2 separate regions of the Homo sapiens genome follow, and region 1 is linked to region 2. A link means that fine-mapping ties the variant in region 2 to the expression of a gene that starts in the linked region. Tissue or cell type: nasal epithelium. Region 2 holds a variant in brackets; the other region holds the start of a gene. All regions are shown on one strand. Distances are between the middles of the regions.

Evidence for each region. PIP is the estimated chance that this variant, and not a neighbour inherited with it, causes the effect.
Region 1: it holds the start of CACNB4, and the variant in region 2 is fine-mapped to the expression of CACNB4 in nasal epithelium (TOPMed, PIP 0.94).

Annotation. Positions count from the first base shown.
Region 1 is chr2:152,097,565-152,100,359 of GRCh38, forward strand. CACNB4 (calcium voltage-gated channel auxiliary subunit beta 4) reads right to left here and starts at 1,480. Exons shown (of 14, transcript NM_000726.5): 1 at 1,385-1,480; 2 at 766-849. The coding sequence starts at 1,447. RefSeq lists a silencer at 1,389-1,678.
Region 2 is chr2:152,072,473-152,075,267 of GRCh38, forward strand. All of the region lies in intron 2 of CACNB4 (calcium voltage-gated channel auxiliary subunit beta 4), which reads right to left. Among named protein-coding and RNA genes, the nearest start is that of CACNB4, 25 kb to the right of the region's middle. The variant T/C (reference allele first, on the strand shown) is at 1,138.

The sequences.
Region 1 (2,795 bases), 25 kb after region 2:
GAAAACTGAGGACCAATTTCCTGTGCCAAGGTGAAAGGCACCTAAGCATTGAGCATTACCAGCGATCCGGAGATCCCGAGCACAGACAATTCGCACTAGAACCACGCAGGAGAAAGCAAGCACTAAGAAAACAAACACGAAGTGAAGGCGCACCCAGACCCGGAGCTGAGTGCTGGCCTTCGTTAATTCCTATTTAACCAGATACAGCTGTCTTTCCCTAACTAAGCGAATCCAAGAAGCGGTCCTAAAGTGAGAGTAAACTTTCTGCTCAGTGTCTTTCTTTTGACCGGAGCTTGACGATCTCTCCCAAGATCCAGACAGATAAGAGTATTCAAATTAGGACAAAACAGAAGAAACCACTAAATCTCAACTCGAATCAAACCAGGTCCCCGGCCCCGAGGGGTCTGGTTACTCTAGGTCGAGTTATACGAATTAAAGACATTTCTCCACGCACCAAAGATACAACCAGACATATTTCCAGCTCTTAAATTCAACGTCCCTGACTTAAGCCAGGTCCCCACCGAACTGTCCACACACATGCACAAACTAACTTCCCGGGGCGGTGCGGAGACGCCGGGACGCGAAGACGTCAAGAGCCCAGGCTAGAGGGAGAGGGACTGAGCCCGAGCACCGGCCGAGGCCGGGAAGAGACGCGCGCGGGCTTGACCCGCAGCTCCCGCACGTGTGGGCCACGGCCGGCTCCAGGACCCCCGCGCCGCGCGCTCGGCCTCCTCCCCATCCTGGTCTCCCGCCTCCTTCTCATACCTGTCTGAGGATGAAGCTGGTCGAAGTGGTGCTGCCATCGGATCTTTTCAACCTGCTCCTCCGGGTTGTGGTGCCTCGGGCCACCTGGACTCGACACACGGGGGCCAGAGAGAAGCCGGTGAGGACCGCAGCGCAGAGCGGGGCGACCACCCCCGGCTGGAGTCCGCCTCCGGACCCGCTCCCTGGGGTCCCCTAGAGCCCGCACCCAAGTCTCCTCCGCGACTCCCAAATACAGCCCCCACCCCCACCCACCCACTGCAAGCCTCGACTGCTGAAAAGATGCTCGAGAAGAGCAGCCCGCAAGCACCCACCACATCCATTAACAAAGACTCTCAGGGTGCGGGGTCCGAGTCCCCGGCATCCGCTGGGGGAGGCTGCGGGCTCCGGAGCGGGAGCGCAGAGACCCGAAGGAGGGTGAGGAGGAGGAGGAAGAGAAGGAGGAGAAAGAGGAGGAGCGGGAGGAGAAAGGGACGTGGAGGAGGGGTGGGGGGAGCGGGGCCGCCGACTCCCGGGACTGGGGCCCCGCACGCCCGGCACGAAGGCGGGGCGCGCTAGGGCGGCGGAGGAGGTGTGAGGAAGGAAGAGGAGGAAGAGGAGAAGGGGGAGGAGGGGGCGGTACCTGCGAGGTGGGGGAGTGCGGCCCGTCCGCGGTCCCGTTCTTGGCGTAGGAGGAGGAGGACATCGTTCAGAGCCGCCGCATGGCCAGCCCGTGTGCGGTGGGCGGAGGGGGCTGGCCCCCGAGGCTGGGCTGCGGACGGAGGGGGAGGGCGCAGGACTTCCCCACCCGGCTCCAGGACCCGCGCCGGCGCCCAGGCTCCCTGCCCGCACTTCGGAGAGCGCGGCACCTTAAAGGGACCGAGGCGCTTCCCCCGCGCTCGCGGCGGGGTCCCGGGGAGGGGGCTTCTCGGAAACTCGCCTACCCGAGCGGATTGGGAGAAGCGCTCTCCCACCTAGCAAGCGCTTTACATCAGAGCTTCCAGAGGATGAAGGGAGGGGGAAATCTGGGATGGGGGTGGCAAGATTAAAATAGTCTGCACAGTTTAAAATGAGACAAAGGTGGCACGGTTCATGAATCAGGACTTGGGGACGGAAGCTGGTGCAGTGTGGCGGGAATGGGAAGAACCGAGCGGGTGTGTGTGTGTGTGTTTGCTGCACTGGAATTTTAAAAGGGCAAGAGCAGAGCCACCTTCCGCGACTTCACTCATCAGCCTAATGTGTAAGGCATGGGGTTTTGTGGCTTGCTTTTCGTCCGTGTTTTTGTATTGCTTTGGCAATTCTGTCCTTAGAGCTGCGAGTCACACACATCCAGGCAGCTGTGAGAAACCCAGCCAGCCTGAGTCTGACGGGAGATGCTGCCCCGCCAAAGACCAGTATGTCCTACGGAGTTTTGAAGGTCATGTTAGACCTGCTAAGAAGCAAGAGTTGGTCACTGTGCCTCCCATTTCTATGCGAATGGATATTTTCAAGGGGGAGAAACTCATCCTTGCAACCATACACAACGTTTGCCATTGGTTTCCTCCTGTAAATACATACAAGAGATTAATTTGTGATCAAATTAAAAGAGAGGGATTGCGGAAAGGAAGAATAAGTGCGAGGTATTGACAGAGGAATAAGAAGAGGGAAGAAAAGTATATGCAAATTCAAAAATAAAGAGACTCCGTTTAAATTAAAATATACTTACTATCTCAAATCGCTAAATCAGCTTGCATTCTAGGACTTTATGTTTATGGACACAACTACCATGCTTGTTTTAATAATTGCTTGGCTTTATTGAGGTCCTGGTTATATCTTACCATCCACCAGACACTTCCTTTCCATTCCTAATCCCTTCACTTAATCCAAACCTCTGTAACAATCTTATAACTAATGTCCTTGCCTCCAGGCTTCCTGGTGCATGTGCACGTATGCACATGCACACATACACACGCAGAGATTTCATTCCATCTACACACTACAGGCAAAACCATTTTCCTAAAATATCTTGCCCAAGTCACTCTTCTCTAAGATAAAGTCCAAACTCCATGGTCCAA
Region 2 (2,795 bases):
ATTCCTAGTTAAAGAGCATTCATGCCTCAAGATAATATCGTAAGTCAAATTTAGTAACAGTTATAGTAATCTTTTAACATTATAAACCTTTTTCACTGGTAATATCTCAAACAAGGCTTATGAAAACCTTATGATGAGGCACAGAAGTTGATTACCTCCATTTCTTTTTCTTTTCTTTTTTTTTTTGAGCCAGAGTCTTGTTCTGTCGTCCAGGTTGGAGTGCAGTGGCATGGTCTCGGCTCACTGCAAGCTCCGCCTCCCGGTTTCACACCATTCTCCTGTCTCAGTCTCCCAAGTAGCTGGGACTACAGGCGCCCACCACCAGGCCCAGCTGATTTTTTTTTTTTTTTGTATTTTTAGTAGAGATGGGGTTTCACCGTGTTAGCCAGGATGGTCTCGATCTCCTGACCTCAGGATCCGCCCGCCTCGGCCTCCCAAAGTGCTGGGATTACAGGCGTGAGCCACCATGCCTGGCCAATTACCTCTGTTTTATAGGGTTGGAAACTAAAATTCAAGTTCAGTGGCTTGGTCTAGTATATGGTTAAGCTAGACCTTGAACTTACGCTTTTGCTGAAAATATCATGCTCTTTCTACTACCAGAATTTAGGGCCAATTCAAGGATTTTCATAAAATATCAGGAAAATGCTTTCAGGGAGCAATATATCACAAATGGCATCAGGAAGAAATCTATATAGATTTACTTGTGCAGTTGGCAGAGAGAATAAGGTCCAGGAGAGCAGACGGAAGTCAGCTATCAGCAAACTGAAACATCTCAAATCCAGCATAATGATTTCCTTATTGAAGGGAGCCAGTCGAGAAGGAAAGACCATCTTCCTTGTCATCCAAGGTCCAAACACATCTCCCTCTCCAACCCTCACCCATCACCCCATGCCAAATTCAATATACCTAGAAGCATCCTCCTCTTTGAAGTGAATGCTTTAGCTCAATGCCATTCGCCTGTGTAGTAAACTGGCAATCGTGCTTTGCTATGTTTACATGAGAATTTAGCCACCACCCCCAGATTCTAGTGCCATCCCCAAGGCTGGCATAAGTTAGCATAAGAATGGGATGATTATGAATTGGAACAAGCAGAGATTGCTAAGTATTTAAATAAACAGGTTAAGTAATGTTAAGGGA[T/C]TGGAAAACAGTGCAGGATAATGAAAACAATCTACAAAAATAATTAAAAATACATTTTAAAAATGGAACAAAAGAGATAATGGTGGGCAGATTTGTCAATCTGCTTTCACTCTTAAAAGAAAGTCCATTCTCCACTGCCAGCTGTGTTCTCCAAGAGCAGGGCTCTCAGAACTTGGAGCATTCCCTTCAATAACAAATGCAATCCTCTAGCATTAAACGCTCTTATTTGACAACAATGCAACGGCCTCATCTAATGAGGAAATGTCCCTAGCTTCTAGGTGAAAAGCAGTGATGTAGGACCAGAAGAGGCAGGACTGTAAGAGGCAGGGGATAGGGGCAGGCAGGATAGGATGCTGTGCTGGATCCAAAGCTATTGTCCAGGGTCAAAGGCTGAGAATCAGCTGAAGAGTCCTAGGTAAGCCCATGTGAAGGGGACTGAGTTCAGAATAAGGCAGGCAGGCAGGGGAGGAATGGCAAAACAAAAGAAAACAATGTTATGCAGTCATCACTCCAGGAGGCTATGAATCCCAACAGGCAGGCTGAGCAACAGAGGTGAGGAACCCAGGGTAAGAACCACCAACACTACCACCATCACCACCACCATCGTTGCCATCTCCACCACAGCTACCATCAGCACCCCCCCATTTATACCAATACCACCATCACCATTACCAACATCACCACCATCACCGCTTTACCACCATCGCCGCCACCAGCACCCTCACCACTACCATCATGGCATAATCACTACTACCATTCCCACCCTCCTCTCCGCCATCACCAACATCACCATCATCACCACCAGCAGCACCACCACCATAACCATCACCAAGCCATCGTGGCATAATCACTACTATCACTACTACTGTCCCCACCCTCCTCTCCGCCATCACCACCATTACCGCTACTGCCACCACCATCACCACCAGCAGCACCACCACAACCGTCACCACTGTCACCACAGCATAATCACTACTACCGTCCCCACCCTCCTCTCCACCATCACCATCACCCCCTCACCATTACCACCTCTATCATCACCATCACCCCCTCACCATTACCACCTCTATCATCACCATCACCCCCTCACCATTACCACCTCTATCATCACCATCACCCCCTCACCATTACCACCTCTATCATCACCATCACCTTCACCTCCACCCAACCCTTACCAAGCACCATCACCATCCTACAGTCACCACTATTGCCCCATCTTCATCATCACCACCCCTGCCCTGACACCCAGGACCATCAACAGCACCATCATAACCACTAATATCACCGTGATCACCACAACCACCCTCACTGCCATCACCAGTATTACCATCATCACTCTAGGATGTTCCCCCAACAAACAGAGAAACAGGCAGAGGCTTTAAAATGTCAGACTTCCCACCAGTCTCTGAAAGTGGAAGGCAAATACCGATACATATTATGGCCACCACCCTGCTTGAAAAGAAGAGCTACAGTGAGATGTGCTTTTAAATAGAATAATTTGCATCCAATATCTACATATATTATTTCATTTTTCAAAATTCTGACACCATCCTACAAGGCAGGCATTATCATCCTTATTTCACATTATTACTTGCCTAAGGTCACACAAACAGAAAGTGATAGAACATGGACTCAGTCCATTCACCTGATGCCACAAC